2 separate regions of the Homo sapiens genome follow, and region 2 is linked to region 1. A link means that fine-mapping ties the variant in region 1 to the expression of a gene that starts in the linked region. Tissue or cell type: whole blood. Region 1 holds a variant in brackets; the other region holds the start of a gene. All regions are shown on one strand. Distances are from middle to middle.

Region 1 (10,342 bases):
GGATTGATCAAAATCTGGGGTTTGCCGGGAGAGCATGATAGAAAAACAATGGTGCAAAGGATTCCAGAAGGTTGGAAATAAAGCAGTTGAGGTGTTGTATCCTGAGGCTTGGCTACTAGGGGAGAGAAGTGACAGCTGGAGGGGCTAGTAGATAGGGGGAAAGAAGATGAGGCTGCGGCTGGAGGGCCCTCAGCATGTGAAGAAGGGAGATACGGTGACACAAGGCTGTGGTCAGACAGAGGTGTGTATCCATGGGACCAGGTGATTGAGATGGAAGAAACGGAGAAACAAATGGCCCTGAGGGTGAGGAGGTCAGGACCAAGAGGCTAGTGGGAAGATGGGTCACTCCATCAGTATATGGCAGGACTTGGAGTGCAGGCAATGGCAATGGGTTAGGCGCCAACATCTTTGGTAGAACTTTTACTTCAAGGTCAGTTTTGCACTGGTGTTGCCTTTCTTGAAGAAAGAGGTTAGGGAGCCTTGGGGAAAAGAGAACAGAAAGGAAATTTATTTCTTGGCCTGTCATTCTATACTTGGCCTATTTGTTCCAGAACAATCTATTTTAAGGAATCTGCAAACTTCTAGGAGGTTTCTACTCTTATTTGCATCTACAGCCTCAGCCATGGGACCTCTGCCTGCCAGTGGCGTCCCCTGCAAAGAATTAGGACTAAGATTTGTGATAGGAGCCCATGTGTGAGGATAAGACACAGTGGAACACCCTTTAATTATAGCATCTGAGACTGTCTAAGCAGATGGTGGTGACAAGGAGTCCTGTCATCTCTCTGCCCTCAGTTGTTCCATTTCATAAACTGAAGGTGGCAGAGAAAGAAAGGTTGTTCAACAGGTGACATCCCACGGCCCTTTCAGCCCTGTGCATCAACCACACTGTAATGACTCCACATGGGAGAAGAAAGTTTTGCCAAAGAAGAAAACCCCAGATGTGGCCAAATAAGACATCAAGGGAGGGAGCAGATCCTAGATGTTAAGAGCAAGTATAATACCAGGAATCGGACTGCACGGGCTAAGTCCCAACTCTGCCCCTGAAAGCTAGGTCCACTCAGGCCGGAGAGCTGCTCATGTCTACCCAGGGAACTATGGGATCTGTGCAGATGTCAAAGCCACTTGACAGCACAGAGTGTTACTTCTGGAATAATGTCATGCAAACTGACCTTCACAAAGCTCTGACTTAGTAACATAAATGTGGAAAGGGGGCTCAGAGGGAATCACCTAGCTGATAAGTGGTAGAAGCAGGACTGTCAGCTTTATGACCACACCTGAGTCCCCAGTCTGTCTCAATCTCACACCTAGAGATTTGAGGGTCGGCTAAGGCCCTGGGACCTCTAGGCGCAGACACTGCTAGGAGAGCCACTGAAAGTTCCCCCTACCACTACAAAGTAGGGGAGAGAGGCACACCTAGACTCATCTGAGACAGAGCAGAAAACAGATGGATGTTGCAAACATCACAGGTACCTCTCCCTGTCCCTGTCACACAGCTTTGGGGAGTTTTAGTTGGTTCCATGGAGAATCTGGTAGTCCCCGGGGAGAGCTGCGCAGCAGTTGATGCCGCGTGCATACACTGCCACCTAGAGGCAGTCTGAGGAAACTCCAAGTTTATTAAACCACGGGTGTGTGTGTGTGTGTGCGTGTGTGTCAGTCTGTCTTTCTGTGTGTTGGGGGAGGAAGGGAGGGCTTTTCAGTCCTTGTCTGGCACTGCTGATTCTCTCTTTCCTGGAGCCCTTGGCTCTCTTCCTCTACCCACTCGGGACCACGTGTCCTGCACGCAGCTCCTCCTCAGTCTCTTTGCAGATCCTGCTCCCCATTTCCTACAAATGCTACTTTTCCCAGATGCTGGGAACATCTAACACCATTTTCTTCCCCCTCTCATCTCCACAGGCTCTCTGCCCTCTGTGCCACTCTGTGTCTTTAGAATCCTCTGTGCACCGCCCCCACCCATCTTTGTGGCCAGATCCCTCTCCTGAGCTCCGGTTCCCCCTCCCTCACACTAGAAAGAAAATCTGATCCCATCAGTCCTCCTCCTGCAAACCCTTAGAGGTTCATTTCATGAACACAGCTCCTTCCATTGTTCTACAGGGATTAACCAGGCCTGGCCTCTGAGTGGGCTGCTCCAACCATATTCTGACCACAGGCCTGCCTCACACACAGTGACCTAGCCTGTCACCTCTGGTTTGTGACCACCTAGACCACACTTCAGGACCCACTGTGTTAGATTAGATCACTCACTTGGAATTGCCCCTGGCAGAAGGAAGCTGCCCCCCACCAGGGCTCTGCCCCACCCCCATCCCTGGTGCAGGGTGCAGCCTATGTCCACTAAACGAGTGATGGGTGGGAGTTACAAAGCCCCTTGTCTCATTTCGGGGCATCTGCTGGGTGATCTCAACTCAGAGCTCCTGTGGGATCAGTTGAGGCCTCACAGCTCCATGTCGCCCTCCACTCAGTCCTGCTCCCCTCACTTCTTGCATACACATTTCTGGACCAGCTTCTATTTCCTGTGCACTTGGCACATGCCATCACTTTGGCTTAGAACAGCTTTTGAGTTATTTTCCTTTGCCTGTCTGAGCACAGGAAGTAGAAAGCCACCCAGCACAACCTTGCAGCCAGGCCCTTAGGAGAACTGGCCAGCAGAGGTCAGGATCTAGTACTGCCTCCACGTCACCCACTCTCTATTCTCACTGAGACATTGGTATCTCATTTATCTCCACAGTGCCAGCAACTTCTGGCCAGCTTCCCCTCAGGGCTCCTCCCTGCCTTCTGCCGGTCAGCTGTCACCATCTGCGCCCCTTCTGGGGAAAAACTTTGTACAGGTTTTACAGGTCCCTGGCTAGTTCACAGAGGCCTGAGTTAGGGTCCAGGGTCCACCCCGGTCCAGTCGATGTGCCCAGGACCGGGGTTTGTGGTGCAGACCGTGGAGAGTCTGGGTGCCTCCAATGGAAGGTGTGGCATGGCCAACTCTGAGGTCCCCAGGATGGGACAGCAACATCTGGGCACATAATGTCTTGCCACCTGCTGCTAAGGCTGCTAACTGCAAATAATAAAGAAGCAAATTTAGAACCACATATTAGCATTTGTAACTGGTTTTAGTATGCATATACAGATCCAGTTTTGTAATGATTATATTATTATTTGTCAATTTTTAAAGGCGTTTTAAACATTTATGAGACTGAGTCATTACAGTTGGGAAGAGTGTAACTGATTACATTTAATGTTTAAATGCTCAAGGAAAATCTACTTTCTAAAAATTATCATCAACTGAAGAATGACGAGGTTCATAAATTTGGCTCTCTTGAGTCATGAAGGCTGGGGAAAGATGAGAGTCCGATAAGGGCAGCCCAGAGCTCTGCATGGCAGAGACTTTAAAGACTTCCTGCTTCAAGCAGCACCCGCTTTCCCAGGAGCTGGCTGTGCTTTGGCCCCCAGGCTCCACACCCTAGCCCCTCCTGGCCAGAGGCATCTGGCCTCCTCCTGCCTCTGTGTATAAGCAGTGCTGGGGTGAGAGCTTAGCAGCAGAACTGGCCTTCTCTCCCCCTGAGGAAGCCTAGCACAGTCATGAAGGGCACAAGGGAGGGCCAATAACAGCTGGGTCCACTGGCTCAGGAAGATTGGCACCCCCCAGGACACTTAGCTGGATTTGTGTCCCTTTCCAGGCTCCTGCCCATACAGGCCCATGAGATTTCCTATGCTCCTTGAATCAAATGGATTTCTTACAGTTCTATGTGGCCTGAGTTTCACAACACAAATAGCCCTCTCTGAGGGGCTAAGGGTGAGGGCACAAAACTTCTTGTCAGTGAACTAGCTAGAGAGGTTTACCAAGCACGCAGTATGGTGCATTTTTATTACTCTGTTAAAAGTGTGTGATTAGTTAATATACTCATATGGAACAGATTATAAAAGTTCAAAAGGGTATTAAAAGGGACATTCTCCTTTATGTCCCCAATCACCAGTATCCTGTTCCTAGAGCAAATACTGTTACAAGTTTTCATGTATTTTCTCATAAATATATTATGGCAGACACTGCTGGTTTTTGTTTTTTTCCCCAAATCCATTCTTTCTTCTTCGTCATCATCTTTTGTTTTGTTTTCTTTTGTTTTTTGAGGAGTCTTGCTCTGTCACCCAGGCTGGAGCACAGTGGCACAATCTTAGTTCACTGCAGCCTCCGCCTCCCGGGTTAAAGTGATTCTCCTGCCTCAGCCTCCCAAGTAGCTGGGATTACAGGTGTGCGCCACCACGCTTGGCTAATTTTTGTATTTTTAGTAGAGATAGGGTTTCACCATGTTGGC[C/T]AACTGGTCTTGAACTCTTGACCTCGGGTGATCTGCCCCTTGGCCTCCCAAAGTGCTGGGATTATAGGCGTGAGCCGCCTCTCCGGGCCTGAAGGGCATTCTTTCATAGCAGGGACAGGAACAAGCCCAGGCTGTTCTGGCCAGTTCCTCCTGACCTCAGGCTATTGCATTCCCAGCACATTCTACAGTTATTCTTGAGAACTACAGTGAGAAAGCTGGGAGAACTGGGTCAGTCCAAGGCCATCTGGAGAACTGCTCTGTAGTCCATCCGAAACCCAGATATCCCCCTTAGCGAAGCTGGTCAATTTCATATCCCACCAACCTCCCTGGATTTGGAGGCAGGGGTTTGGTCTGTCTCATTAGTTCGAGAACACTTTAACTGACACAATCCCAGTGAGACATCATTAAGCCATAGCCAGAATCCATTTCACGAGGCCCAGGAGGACCCCTACAACTGCAGAATAACCAGGGCTGCCTGGAGCATGACCTAGCCTTGGACACAGCGATCCAGTTAAGAAGTCGCTATGGAAGTCTAAGAAGGATCCTTCAGGTGGCCCCACTGTCTGCAGCCAGTGGGCCTGCTCCTGAATTTTTTCTGCTTGTGAGGGTCTGCTCCTGAATTTCTTCTACTTGTGTGTCTTTTCTTTCCTTTTTTTTTTTTTTTGTTTTTGAGATGGAGTTTTGCTCTTGTCGCCCAGGCTGGAGTGCAATGGCACAATCTTGGCTCACTGCTCACTGCAACCTCCACCGCCCGCGGTTCAAGCAATTCTCCCACCTCAGCCTCCTGAGTAACTGGGATTACAGGCACCTACCACCATGCCTGGCTAATTTTTGTATTTTTAGTAGAGATGGGGTTTCACCATGTTGGCCAGGTTGGTCTCTAACTCCTGACCAAAGGTGATCCGTCCACCTTGGCCTCCCAAAGTGCTAGGATTACAGGTGTGAGCCACCGCGCCCAGCCTACTTGTGTTTCTATGAAATCTGATGTGCTTATCCAGGTACAGCAGGAGGTGTTAACAATTGCACACACTCCTCCCACTTGGGCTAAAAGAAAGTCTAGAGCAATATTGGTATGTAAAACAATCTTCCCAAGAGAAATGAAGGATGTCTGCAGGGCTGCCAAAACAGTGGCTGTGAAGGAGGCAACATCTGCCATGGTCAGGGACAGATTTCTTATCATTCTTTTATGAGCACTGACTCCTAGGTAGGTACCAAAGAGCTCATAAAGAACATGAACCCAGAGTCAGTTACACCTCCTGGCAGGCTCCCTAGTCAGCCTGGTGTATAGCTTTAGGCTGCTAGCCCAGTGGTGCATCTCATTTCCAGGGGTGATATCCAATGGCACCCCCAGCCCATCTAATGTGCAGAATTTCACCATCCACTAGCATTCTACTCTCTGCTTTTATGGGTTCCTTTTTTTTTTTTTTTTTTTTTTTTTGAGATGGAGCCTCACTCTGTCGCCCAGGCTGGAGTGTAATGGTGTGGTCTTGGCTCACTGCAACTTCCACCTCCCAGGTTCAAGCAATTCTCCCACCTCAGCCTCCCAAGCAGCTGGGATTACAGGTGCCCGCCACCAAGCCTGGCTAATTTTTCTATTTTTAGTACAAAAATACAAAAGAGATGGGTTTCACCATGTTGGCCAGGCTGGTCTCGAACTCTTGACCTCAGGTGATCCACCCGCCTCAGCCTCCCAAAGTGCTGGGATTACAGGCATGGGCCACCGCGCCTGGCCTATGGGTTCAATTTTTGAAAAAAAAAAAAAAAAAATTCCACAAATAAGTGAAGCCAGGCACAGAAAGACAGATACTGCATGATCTCACTTAACGTATGGCCTCCAGGTTCACCCATGTTGTCACAAATGACAGAATTTCCTTATTTTATTATTTTTTAAAGATGGGGTGTGGCTATGTTGCCCAAGCTGGTCTCAAACTCTTGGGCTCCAGCAATCCTCCCATCTCAGCCTCCTGGGTAGCTGGAACTACATGTGCACTAACACACCCAGTGTTAGATTTCCTTCTTTTTAAAAGCTGAAAAGTACTCCTTTGTGTACATATGCCACATTTTCTTTATCCATTCATCCATTGATGTATACTTATCTTGGCTATTGTGAATAATGTGCTGCAAAGAACGTGAGCATGCAGGTATCTCTTCAACATACTGGTTTCATTTCCTTTGGGTAAATACCCAGTAGTGGGATTGCTGGATCATATAAGAACTCTATATTAAGGAACTCTATACTGTCTTCCATAATGGCTGTACTAATTTACATTCCTGCCAACAGTGTGTAAGGGTTCCCTTTTCTCCACATCCTTTCCAACGTTTGTTTCTTTTGTGTGTTTGTTTTTGTTGTGAGACAGAGTCTCGCTCTGTTGGCCAGGCTGGAGTGCAGTAGCATGATCTCGGCTCACTGCAACCTCCACCTCCTGGATTCAAGCGATTCTCCTACCTCAGCCTCCTGAGTAGCTGGGACTACAGGTGCGCACCACCATGCCCGGCTAATTTTTGTATTTTTAGTAGAGACAAGGTTTCATCATGTTGGCCAGGCTGGTCTCAGACTCTTGGCCTCAAGTGATCCACCTGCCTCAGCCTCCCAAAGTGATGGGATTACAGGCATGAGCCACCGTGCCCGGCCCCAAGATCAAGAATTTTGACTGACTCAGACTGTGCTGGGAGAGCATTTAGTGTAGCAAGTGGGACCAGCACATCTTGTTGGATGAAGAGTGCAATTAGAGGCATCTTCTGCTGGAACAAAGCTCTGCAAGGAGCTGCCCTGTGGACAGACTGAGAGAGGCATTTTCGGGGACTCAGGTATCTCCCACTGGCCACCCCTTGGCAACTCTCACTCTAATTATGGCTGGACCTGGGCCTTAACGAGTGCTTCTGCAATGAGAAACTTCCATCATCAAGTCTTCGGTAACTTTCAAGTAACAAAGGCAGGATAAATGCTTGTCTTTCTTTACCAGGTTTCAAATGAGTTGCTTTCTTAGCATCATCCAGAGATTTTCTTTTTTTAAAGGATCATTATGAACTCATTGATTTGAACATCTGATGTGTTTTAATTCATTGCCATTATTCTTATTGATGCTCAAAGAGTCCCATCTTTGGCAAGTGAGAGTTGTCTCCTGAGTCTGTCCTTTATACAAGCCCTTAGTGGTGATTGAGAGCTTGCTTGGTATCTGGTACAACAAGATGTTACAGGCTCATCTTGTACATTTTCTGCCCCAACCCTGCAATCAGCCATTTCCCCAAGGAGTTCCCTTTAGCAGAAACTGATATTGGAAGACCATGTTCTGGGCTCAGCTGTCTCTTGAGAGACTTTATTCATGTTTCCTGGCTGAACACCATGGAAATTAGGGCATGGGTGTCTCTTAACTAACTTCAGAACAGACATGGACGACTACTTGGCACGAAAGGGGAAAATTCCTCTGCTTCTTAAAAGATTTCACAATTGTTTGTCAAGGTAAGGCAGTGGTCTTCCACCTTGCCTACATACTAGAATCCCCTAGGGAGCTCTAAAACATACTGATGCCTGGATCGATCCAGCCCCAGAGATTCTGGTTTAACTGGACTAGGATCTGGACTGAGCAATGGCATGTTTTTTCTTTTCGTTTTGTTTTGTTTAGTGTGAGGCTCGCAGATGGGGCTCAACCCTGACTGTAATTATTCTGTATTTGTCTTTACACTTTTACCATCTATATATGGAGCTTACACAATACTGTTTGCAAGCCTTACACATTTATGTAAACTGTATCCTACTGAATGTACATTCTGAAGCTTTTTTCCTTCCTTGTTTCGGTGCATCCAAGTTGATACTTATACCTCTCATTCATTCATTGTAACTATTATAGCACAGTAAAACCTTCTACTACCCCATCATTTTCTGCTGTAAAATGATCAAAAATTCATGAGCAGTTAGTTGTCCAGGAGAAAAATCATGAAGGTAACCCTGACTGCTCTTTTTCTTACATCCTATATCCAAATAGTTCAAGAATCCTCTTAGCTCCTCTTTCTGTCACATCCTACATCCAACAGTTAAAGAATCCTCTTAGCTCTGCCTTCAAATATATCCATCATGACGCTTCTCACTATCTTCTGTGCTCCCACCTGGTTGCCACCACCATTCTCTCTTGCCTGGATCATTGCACCAGCCTCCCAAATGGGCTCCCTGCTGCCACCTTTGATCCTCTAAAATCTATTCTCTCAAAGCAGCCAGAATAATAGAAATCAGATCATGTCACTCTTCTAAAAACCCTCTAAACGAATTCCCATCGCTCCCAGTAAAATTTAGAATTGCCTCCTATCCCCTACTGCAATAACTAGTGTGTGGGTTGACCTTGACCATCATTATATAATACAGAAAGGTGACCAGGTACAGCTGGAAGAAGCATGTCCTTGAAAGGACCTCCCCACACCTCCCTAATCCAGGGATCTAACCCACTATCATCCTCAATTGTTACTGTCTTCAAAACAAAATGACAAATCCTCCTTTAAATGTAGAAAGGATTTGAAGGGTTAAATGAGAACAAATCAACTTTCTTTCCCTTCCCCTCCCAAACATAAACTGACAAATACACACCTTCTTGCTTGCCCCATGGGGCACTGGCAACCCAGAATGGAGGGAGGGCAGCTAGTGCTGGGAAGAAACTGCAGTCTGCCCTGACTGCATCCACCCTCTATCCTCACAGCCCCTACAGCCTCTTCCCCACAGCTCACCTTCCCTGCCCTCCACTCCCCTACACTGCAATGGTATGCTTTGCTCTGGGAAAGAGAGGAAGCAGACACAGGCATTGCTTTTGAGAAATCTGCATACTGGGAGAGAGGACATAGAACCAGGTAAACAAAACAGACTAGACTCCTCCGTTTTCCCCTAGCCATGCTTCGCTATCCAAATCTCTGCCTTGGAAGTTCCTCCAGCTGGGGGTTCCCCATGCACCCCTGTCCACACCATCTGTGACCCTTGCCACTGCTAGGGCCAAGGAAAAACTCGCCCTTCACCCGCTGCAGACTTGCTGAAAAAATCACTGACAAGAGGCAAATTAACAGGAGAAAAAGCAAACAAATTTATTTGATCATAATTGTATGTGAGCCCTCAGAATGAAGACCCCAAGATACAGGGGAATTGTCCATTTTTATGTTTAGGTTCAACAGATTATGGACTGTGTAGAAATATGATTGGACAAGAAGGGTATGATCTAATAGTAATAGACTGAGAGGGGAAACCCAGCAAGGCTGTCTAGATTCTTCTTGGCCTCTCTGTGCAGGATTCCTTCCTTCTGGGCACGGGGTGGGACCCTCTCTGGAATGGGTATCTTACGACAGTCAAACACGGTAGGTCAGATCATTTCTTTCCAACCAGTTTTTACACAGAAAGGGGAATGGGGAGTGAGAGGACTATTTTTAGGTTTTATGGCTGGCTTTGGGTAAAACCGGTTCTGGTTTCTGATGACCTGCCTTGGGGAAGAGGGATTCTAGTTTCTATGGGTAGCCTTGGGGGAGAATGAAAAGCCAGAAACAAGAGGGCAGGAGAAGGTCAGAGAGAAACTTTTGCTTCTGGGGCTGCTTCTGAGGCCTTCCTTTTAAAGTTATCAGAGATGATCAGGGGCATCCTGGCTCCAGGTAAGGTCTCCTGACGTGAGTGTGCTGGTCTTCCACACTGGATGCCGAGCCTTTTAAAGGGTGGTTTTCAACCTTGGCTGCATATTGGAATCACTCCAGGAGCTTTAAGAAATATTGTTGGCCTGGTGCTGTGGCTCATGTCTGTAATCCCTGAGCTTTGGAAGGCTGAGGCAGGATGACTGCTTGAGCCCAGGAGTTCGAGACCAGCCTGTGCAAGATAGTATAAGAGCTTGCCTCTACAAAAAATTTAAAAATTTGTTGGGTGTGGTAGTCCACGCCTGTAGTCCCAGCTACTAGGGAGGCTGAGGTGGGAGGATATCACTTGAGCCCAGAAGTTAAGGCAGCAGTGAGCCATGATTGCATTACTGCACTCTAGCCTAGGTGACAAGCAAGATTCTATCTAAAAAAAAAAAAAAAAAAGTTGCTTGGGG
Region 2 (10,342 bases), 33 kb after region 1:
TGTCCATCTTCTAAAATGTATCTGCTACCCATCCTCTTCTCGACCTCACTGCTGCTGCCCAAACCCAGGATCCTATAACTCTGTCCCTAGCCTATTTCAAGAACCACAGAATGAATCTGGCTTGGTTCTAGTCTGGTCCTCTATAGTTTATTTTCCAAGCCGTAGTCAGAGCGATCCCAGCACACCCCCACCTGATTACACCTTTCCCTTGTGTTCAGACTCTCACTAACAATAAACTCCTCAGCAAGCCAGCTGATGGGGCCCTCCACAGCTTGGCTTCAGCAAGTGTTGCTCATGTTGTTTCCTTTGCCCGGGATGCCCCCCTCTGACCCAGGCCAACCACGTAAATGCCTACTTATTCATAAGGCCCAGCACACATAACACTTCCTCTCCAAAGCCTTTCCTGAAAGCCCTGACAACTGACTGCTCACTGACCTCTTCTATAGCGTGCATGTGTGTGCGCACACACCCATAACCCTGCACAATGCACAAATGAATTGTGTAAATTTTAGTTATTTACATGTCTGTCTCCACAATATGTTGGCACAATGTGTTGTCGTCTTCATTCCTGCATCCCCAGCACTCAACACAGATCCTGGTAATTATCAGGCATTAAATGTTAATTAAATTATCTGAATTTTACTCTTAGAATTCCACAGTGAGGCAGACTTGGAACTTATAACTACTCAATTCCAATTTCAGTTCAGTATGAAAGGCAATTTTGGACAGGGCTGGCTTGATATTAAAGAAAACACTCTAGCTTGGGACTTAGGTAACCTTAGGCTGGGTCCTCGCTCTACTGCTCACTAGCAGGGCAATCTGACTTAAGGTATGAAGACACTCGGGGCCTGGATCTCATCATCTATACAGAGGAAGGAACTCAAAATTCTATGAGGTTGTCTTAGCTCTGACATCCAAAGACTCTAAAGTACCATGTGACTGCAACTACAGGGATCTGATGTCTAGAAAGCCATGGGAACCCCTGCCACCACTGTTCTTCTGCTGGGTGTGCACATTCACCCTGCCTCCTTTGCTGGGCCTAACTCCTGACTGTTCCAGGAGCTGCCTCTGGGCAGGAACTGATAAAGTCTTAATGAAACAAAGTATCAGCACTGGCTGAGTTAAATCATGTCTGAAACAAGTAGAGACAGCATCATATTCTAAACATCAAGGGTACACCTGCCCAGCCCAGCCCCACCCAGGGAATCGTCCCTCTTCAGAATGAGCTGGCCTGAGGCAGAGATAGGGGAGAAGCAAGAAAAGGTGCTGAGGGAGACAAAAAACTAAGAGTGCACATGGGCCTCCTTGCCTCAGGCCCTCAGTGAACAAGTCTTGAAAGGATGCTTCATCTTCCTTCTCTGGTCTCCTCTGTTTCCCTCTCCTTCCCTCAAAGCGCTGGTTCAGCTCATTTTACTGAGCAAATGAAGAAACTAAAGCTCAGAGAAGGAGCTGGCTAGTCCAAGGTCACATGGGCAGGGCAGGTTGTCAGTGGCTGCACTGGGACTCAGGTTTGGGTCTCCCAACTTCCAGTCCATGACTGTTTATCCTGCATCAGACACGCTAGGTCCTGGGCAGCCAGCCAAGGGCCAGTGGCCTCTAAGGCTGGAATAGCATGGCAGTCTGGGCTCAGGAAGTGGGGCCCTGCAGGTCTTGAAGCCTGTTCACTGGCCTCAGGCAAGCTAAGAGCAAGACTGCCCGTAAACAGGGCCTGGGAAATCTGCTGCCTGGAGAGAACATCATCAGCCTCTCCCAAGCCCAATCCTTGGTAAGCAGCTTATAATCTGAAGCCAAATGTCTTAAGGGTCTCATTGCCTAGTCTCCGCTGAGAAGCCATTCTGCACCTCTCTTCCCCACAATAACAAGACTCTGTCCATCCTTGTCTAGCATACTGATGATGCAGGCACACAGAGCCTTATGAGCAACAGATGCCCTTCCACCCACCCTTGTCTTCATATACCACAAAATCAGTCACTTGCAATGAGCTCTCACCTACCTGCCTCAGTCTCCAACTCTCAGCCCTGCTCCTTGGGGTGTGTATCTGCCTGGTTCTGGCCCAGTCCTACTCTCAAATGCCAGATTCAGAAACCTCTGAATAGATGCTGAAAGCAGCACCAGCCCCCACATTCCTCACTCTTGGGCGTATCTCAGGGTTTCCCAGTAGCTGATTATGTCCTCTTGTTTCCTCAAGCTGTAGGGCCCCCCACCCCTCAAAGAGCAAGCCATTCTAATCTCACTTGCACAGCCTCCTGTCTGGGCTCAGAACTCCGGCTTCATCAAGTTATATGGGTGTGGATAGGAAGGCAAGGCAATACCACAGAAGACACTGGGCTAAAAGCCAATAATCCTGGGTTTTCTCTCTTTGACTCTGAGAGTTATTTTATCCCTCTGAACCTCAGTGTCTTCTTAAAAACAAGGGCACTTTAAAGAGTTGTCATAAAGATTATATAAGAAGAGCAATTTTTAATGCGGTAACGCACTAGAAAACGGCAAAGCAGCATTATCTTTCTCTCTTTTGCAGGGCTCAGATTCACTCGTGCCCCTATAAAGACAGGATATCTGAAGCAGGACAGGCACAAAATAGTGAACTTCTGCAGCTGTGTCACTGCAGGCCTGCTTTCTGGTGAACGTTCTAGGTCTGGTGGGAACACTGGCTTGTCTCAGCCCCTCTGGCCTGCAGGCCCGCTCCATGCTATTCCTGTAGCAGCTAACACTGCCTCCTGCACTAGCAGTGCCAGAGAAGGCAAAGGACACTGCCCAGCTGTAATTTCCCTGTGCCAGAGGCCACTGAGCTCAAAGGTGAGGCTGGCTCTCTGCACAGAACCTCAGGATGGTTCTTGCCACACAAGCCACAGCAGAGAGACTTGGAGCTTCTGCTCAACATTTCACAAAGAAGCAAGAACCCAACTGGCAGGACAGCTGCCCTATTGCTTAGATAGGGACAGAGCCTGGGGCTTGAGCCCTAGAGTTCCAGTCCTATCCAAACTTTCTGAGCACCATTTAAATGACACGAGATGAGAAAATCATCAGAAATGTCTTTTGTACCCCTTCAGAAGTAATGCAGAAGGTCTCAACTAAATGACATGCTCTTATAAAAGACGGGGATATAGGAAAGGCCCACACCAAGAATAATATCTAACTTTAATTCTTGCAAGCTGTATAAACCTGGACAAGGAACTGTTTTGCATCAGTAAAATGGGAATGCTTCCTTAATTACCTTCTACAGAGTTGCAAGAATCAAAGGATTAAATGTATAGGAGGTGCCTTGTGAGGTACCTTACAAAAAGTGCAATAAATACGATGTATAATTCTTCATTTCTAGAGCAATGATTACCCTCAAAACGTTATTTGTACACAAAATGAAGAGTTTTCTGATGAATGAGTATGGTAACGAGTCGGGGTCTGCAGTGGAAATCCCAATCCTCATTCTCCAAAGCTGGGCCCGAGCAGGAGCATTCAAGACTATTCAAGCTGACTTTTTCACAATGCTTTTCAAAACAAATCTTGATTATTTTCTTTTTGAAAAACCACCTGCCAGGTTCAAAGGAAAATACATTAAAATAAAACAAACAAAAAAGCTGAGTTCTGGGTTGCTGGGCTGTGCAGACAGCATGATGTGGCAAGGAAAAGAGGCGCAGGAGCAGCTGGGAACCCCGGTCCGGCAGTGGACTCCCGGGTGTGCCTCCTTCCCACAGCCCTGGACCGGCTGGGCCTTGACTTCCCTTCCTTTGCCTCTAACCATCTCCACCTGCGCCTTCACCTCCCGCTCCAGCAACAACCCTGGGGGCAGATTGTTCATCTTTTCATTCCTAGACCTCAGCAGGGCTGTTAAGTTTACAACTGGGCTCTACCCAATTTAAAGTCAGGCGTTTGTGACTCTTGGGAAAGAGGGGGAACAGGTGCCTCCGAAACGCTGAACAACGCTAGAAACCGTGCCCTCTTAAAAGACACGACCCTAAGCGGGCACAGAGACGAGGACGAGGACTGCCAGGTCCGCACCTGGGGCTGGTCCAGCAGGGCGGCCCCCGGGCCCATGCTCCAGGGCAGGGCCCTCTCCTCTGTTCTTTGTCCCAACAATTCGCGAAGGTTGGCGCCACCGGCGTCACTCAAGGCTTGCGGGCGTGGACAGAGGGGGCCCTAGCCCGCCGCAGCAGCGCCGGGTCCCCGTCTCCGTTCTCCGACGTCTGGGCGCAGGGTTTTTCCATCGGCCGCCACGCAGGGTGGCGGAAGGGTCGTCGTCCTCGGAGGGAGCGCCAGCGCTGCGGCGGCTCCTAAGAAAGTTGGCGCGGGCCCGAGGGGCGCGCCTCACCAGCCCAGCACCCACCCTACCGGCCCTGCACTGCCTCAGTTTCCCCACCTACGCCGCGGCAGGCCCCGCCTACGGACATCACGTGCCTCGCGGAGCCCCGGCGCGCAGCACCTACCTCAAGTGCCTCCCTTCTGCCGGCCTTTTACCGCCCCGACGCCCGGGCGCTAAGGGGCCAAACCGCCCGGCCCGGAGGGTCCCAGGGGCGGGCCCCGCGCTTGCGCAGCCTCTAGCCTGTGCTGCATCGCGCGCTACCGCGCCACCGCCATGTGACCCGCCCCGCCCCCCGTGGGAGGAGCTCCGGGCCTGCCCCCGACTCGCCGACCTCCGGGCCGCGGTCTCCTAGCTCCGGTGGCGCTCGGGCGTGTGCCCCAGCGGTCCTTTTACGCACAGCGCTCGGTCGGTCCACTCCTCAAGTCCGCGAACCGAGGCCCCGACGCGTTCTTCAGGGCGCTGCCTAGGGCAAAAGAAGGCGCTGGACACCCCTAATGGAGCCTGGAAGCACCTGTCCTGCAGCCGAGGCTGGCCAACTTCCTTCCAATCTTCAGCCTGGTTTTGAATAGCTCTTTTGATAGGTTTTTTTTTTTTTTTTAACCTCCATGGGCAGGGGGAATCTAAAGGACCGACACATTCGATGAGCCCCTTCAAGCTGTATGTACAGATTCAGAATTTCCAACCTCAATCCTCCACCCACGTTCCCTTTCACTCCACAATGCCAGCTATGGGGCAGAGAACGGTGAGCCGCAGCCTTGCGGACTCCGGGCGACGCTGAGGCGGGTGTGTCACACACCGCTCATCCACTTACTCCTCCTGTTGGAAGTGCCCACTCTTTCATGAAAGTAGGAGGTTGTGTCCGGCGCGCTGGCTCACGCCTGTAATCTCAGGGCTTTGGGAGGATCGCTTGAGCCCAGGAGTTCAAGACCAGTCTGGGCACCATAGTAAGACTCCATCTCTACGTAAAAAACAAAAACTAGCCAGGCATAGTGGCGCGTGCCTGTATTTCCAGCTACTCTGGAGCTGAGGTGGGAGGATCGCTTGAACCCGGGAGGCGGAGGTTGCAGTGAGCCCAGATCGCGCCACTGCACTCCAGCCTGTCTTTAAAAAACAAAAAAAAGACCCTGTCTTAACAACAAAAAACAAAAAGTAGGAGGTTGGACTTTCAGAGACAGCAGAGCTGACTCACGATACATATTAGTGGTTGGCCGGGCTCGGTGTCTCATGCCTGTAATCCCAACACTTTGGGAAGCCAAGGCGGGCAGATCACTTGAGGGCAGGAGTTCGAGACCAGCCTGACCAACATGGCAAAACCTCGTCTCTACTAAAAATACAAAAATTAGCCGGGTGTGGTGGCGCGCACCCGTAGTCCCAGCTACTCAAGAGGCTGAGGCAGGAGAATAGCTTGAACCCCGGAGGTGGAGGTTGCAGTGAGCCGAGATGGTGCCACTACACTCCAGCCTGGGTGACAGAGTGAGATTCCGTCTCAAAAAAAAAAAAAAAAGACATATCGGTGACACAGTGCAAAGACCAGTCACAGGGCAGCATAAGGTGAAGTGGCAAAGCAGGCCGATGTCCGCCCGTCAAAGGTGGTCATTTGCCTGCAACACCTTCCCCCCTTCATCTGGGAGCTGCCCACAGGTGTACAAAGTCCAAAGGCTTCCGTGATTCACCTCCCTGACTTCCCACTCAGACTCCATGTTCCATGTAAACTTACAGCAACACTTGGGGAGCTTGATCTATTCAAGGGGGTCTCTCCTCAACCAAACTGTGAATTCCTCCACTTCACCTCTGGGACCCTAGAGCCTGGCCCAGGGACAGCGTGGAAATAAACTTAGAAAACGTGAGAGGTGGATCTAAGTTGTGGGGTAAGGGAGATCAGCCTGAGTGCCCATGCAGTTTTCCTGCAGGAGTTAGGCATATGATTTGAAGGCCAGAAAATATTTCGTATACTTTGGTGCAATGCGGGTGTAGTTTTATATATATATATATATATATATATATATATATGATATATAAGATATATATAAGATATATATGAGATATATAAGATATATATGATATATGTATAAGATATGTATGATACATATATCTCTCTCCAGAGGACCTTTCTTTCTTCTCCCTTGTTTCTCCTTACCTTGTGAAGAGGAGCGGGAGAAGGGTCAATCTTTCCATCCCAAAATAGGAAGTTCAAAGGTGAGGAGGGTTTGCAGGGAAGGCCACTTAGAACAAAACAGGAAGTCATTTCCTTGGGAAATGAGTTCTTGGAGACTGACCATTAATGACAGAGCCATTCAGGGGTTGAGGATAGCAGAATTCTGGGGTGGAAGGTCCCCTGAGGCTTTAACTGTGATGTAATTACTAATCACGTGCAAAAGTCATGCTTATATTTACACTTCGGTAACATCCTGAAGATCTGGACTTCAAAAACCAGGCTACATCTGATAGCTAATTAATATGCTCCTCACATGCCCACGTTTCTTTTTGTACAAGAAAGCACAGGCTGAACTCATTAAAAAACAGTCATTAGACCAGAAAAATAAGTTACAGGCAAGCAGGCGCAGGAAAACTTATTTACAAAGCTCAAGGACTAAAACCAAAAACCAAACCAAAACAAAAAACCTGAAGAATAAACCAAGAAAACCCACCAACCTGCCCAGCTTTTAAGAGAAAAATAATTTAAATTTTGTAAAGATTGTAAAATAGCCTTAGGTTCTGAATTTCAGGTGGTAGAAATTAAGGTTGACTAGAAGCTTTGTGATAACTTTAGATAATGTTACCATCTTGACAGGGGCTGGGAAACTTTTCTGTCCCTCACAAGTCCCATAGGGCAGGCAGAAAACACTGCTTGCAGGAGGCAGATCTGGGTAAAGACTCCTGACTTTTTCAGCGTCATAGCACTTCTAGATTCAGCTGGCTTCAGCTTCGTCTGCTACTCAGCAGTGACTGAAGTAACATGATCTTTTTAAGCTTATGGCCCTGTGGTGTCTGGGCTCGCTGGGAACAGTCAGGAAGCAGCTAGCATCAAGATGAAAATAGAGCAAAAACTGATACTTCACTTCAATATGTCAGGCCCAGGTTACCATTCTGTGGATGGGTAAAAGCGAAATCAAGAACAAGACTTGTATGTGAATCTCAAAAATAGATGTGCATAGATCAGCTTCAAATATTTTCTCTATATGCCAATATCCCTGAATTCAGCTCTTTCTTATTTGTTTTAAGCATAAAAAATCCTATACTTCCACAGTGTGTCTCAAAGCAAAGCAAAGTCAATAGGGACCTCTTTCTAAAACCTTCCATAAATGTGGCCAATGGTTTACCAGGTGAACCGATGGCTGACTGAGGGCTAGATGGTGGTATTATTCTGCCCCCAGGTTGAGAAAGCAGGATTGTCTCAAGTGTCCTCAACCATCATTGCATGCACTACCAACTAACATTAACTGAGTCTTTATTCAGTTAGGAAGCTTTGATTTGCAAGTTAACAGAAAACCCAATTCCAGTTGCCTTGAGGTGATCCTGTGGTTTCATGATGTCATCAACAGTCGAGGTTCTCTTGCTTCTCTGCCATTATCCATGTGTTGGCTTCATATTAAGGATGGTTCTCCCTATGGTCATAGGATGATTCCTAGGATCCAACATGGGGAAGGGGCAGTTAGACTAAGGAGTGAACAAAACCCAGATCCTCATACTGATTGGCCAGTCATTGTGGCCAGGGTACTACTGCACTCTAAGTCTAGGTTCATTCCCAACTCATCTATCCCTGTGTGCACACTTAAAAAGAAAAAATATAAGTGAAATGAACAGGATAAGGCATTCCTTAGATATCTTCACATTCAAAGCCCAACTCTTTCGTTTTTTGTTTTTTTTTTGTTTTTTTGTTTTTTTACTATTTTTAGACTTAGAGTTGCTGATTTCTGGATTTGTCACACAATATTATCCTCTGACCATTAGAAACATTGGTAACACAGCATTTCTTAAAGGGTGCTCCATATAGCCTTCTGCTCAACATCAGCAGAAGTTTTTGACAAAAAGATGTTTGACATCTTAATGATAGTCCTTCAAAACAAATGAATTGATGACACCAACCTTTCATTGCTTTGGAATTCCTTTTATCCATTTCAAGAGATTTGGCAACTTTTCCAGTGCCTTACAATTCTTTTGTGTGTTTCTCAATAGCAAAACATAATAGACTTCATTTGTGTGTGTATGTATAGCTTTCTTAGGTTCCATAAGTGTCTCAATTGTTGCTCTGCAAGAATATAGGAAAATGAAGTAATTCTTCTGATAACAAAAGTTGCTTTACTAATATCAAATTTATGTTCCACTGCTCTGATTTTATGAATTTCTGCATTTGCAAAAACTTTTTCATTTCAGTGTCAAATCTTGGAGTAATATTTTAGAAGATTTTACTGTTTAAAAAAATAGAGGCCGGGCGTGGTGGCTCACCCCTGTAATCCCAGCACTTTGGGAGGCCAAAGCGGTGGGATCACGAGGTCAGGAGATCCAGACCATCCTGGCTAATACGGTGAAACGCCATCTCTACTGAAAATACAAAAAAATTAGCCGGGCGTGGTGGCGGGCAGCTGTAGTCCCAGCTACTCGGGAGGCTGAGGCAGGAGAATGGCGTGAACCCGGGAGGCGGAGCTTGCAGTGAGCCAAGATTGCGCCACTGCGCTCCAGCCTGGGCGACAGAGCGAGACTCCGTCTCAAAAAAATAAAAATAAATAAAAATAAATTTTAAAAAAAGGCCGGGCGCGTGGCTCACGCCTGTAATCCCAGCACTTTGGGAGGCCGAGGCGGGCGGATCATGAAGTCAGGAGATCGAGACCATCCTGGCTAACACGGTGAAACCCCGTCTCTACTAAAAATACAAAAAAATGAGCCGGGCTTGGTGGCCGGCGCCTGTAGTTCCAGCTATTCGGGAGGCTGAGGCGGGAGAACGGCGTGAACCTAGGAGGCGGAGCTTGCAGTGAGCCGAGATCGCGCCGCTGCACTCCCGCCTAGGCGACAGAGCAAGACTCTGTCTCAAAAATATGTATATAATAATAAAATAAAAAACAAAAAAATAGAGATGGAGTCTCACCATGTTGCCCAGGCTGGTCTGAAACTTCTGGACTCAGGCGATCCTCCACTGTTAGCCTCCCAATGTGTTGGGATTACAGGCGTCAGCCACTGCACCTGGCCCTAGAAGATTTTATAGAGCATTTAAAGTCAACTCATGGAGTACAAGCAATGTCCATAACTCAACTGAAGGGTCAACAATCTAAGCAGCTATGACTACATTGACGGGTGTGCAGGCAATGACAACTGTCACATCTGTTACTACAATAGCAGTCATAGGACACCACTAATTGTAATGCGTGACCCAATTTCAGACATGTTAAAATGTGAAAAAATGAGCAACTTAGAAATTACAAGCTTTGCTATTCTATAATCAAGTAGAGTTTAGTCCAGGATTGTAAGCGGGTGTCAACATTAGTAGATCTATTAGTCCATATGAACAGAAAACAGGAACAAAACTGCTTATCATATTAATAGATGCTGAAAAGAAATCCAGTTAAAATTGTAGAATTTCCTAGTCATAGCCCTAAGTAAAATAGAAATAAAAGCAAATCACTTAAATATAATAAAAATTCTTTATCGAACACTGAAAGCAAATTTCTTACCTGGAAAAATGTTGATTTCAATTAAATAAGGAACTAGCCCTTTATCTCCATAGTATTGGAGTATTAAAAATGCAATAAAAATGAAATTATGTAAACATTGGTAAAGACTATCACTTTTGCTAATCATATGATTTATCTTTATTTTTATTTTTTGAGACAGGGTCTTGCTGTGTCGCCCAGGCTGGAGTGCAGTGGCACGATCATAGCTCATAGCTTACTTCAGCCTTGAACTCCTGGGCTCAAGCAATCCTCCCACCTCATCCTCCTGAGTAGTTGGAACTGTAGGAATATGCCACTATGGCCCACTAATTTTTATTTTATTATCTTATAGAAACAGGGTCTCACTATATTGCTCAGGCTGGTCTCAAACTCCTGGGCT

The links. PIP is the estimated chance that this variant, and not a neighbour inherited with it, causes the effect.
Region 2: PRXL2A starts here. The variant in region 1 is fine-mapped to the expression of PRXL2A in whole blood (TOPMed, PIP above 0.99).

The regions. Positions count from the first base shown.
Region 1 is chr10:80,436,105-80,446,446 of GRCh38, reverse strand. PRXL2A (peroxiredoxin like 2A) reads right to left here. Exons shown (of 6, transcript NM_032333.5): 6 at 9,332-10,342. Among named protein-coding and RNA genes, the nearest start is that of TSPAN14, 13 kb to the left of the region's middle. The variant C/T (reference allele first, on the strand shown) is at 4,296.
Region 2 is chr10:80,402,723-80,413,064 of GRCh38, reverse strand. It overlaps PRXL2A (peroxiredoxin like 2A), which reads right to left and starts at 4,514. Exons shown (of 6, transcript NM_032333.5): 1 at 4,422-4,514. RefSeq lists enhancers at 2,221-2,720, 3,567-4,160 and silencers at 4,446-4,735, 9,219-9,391.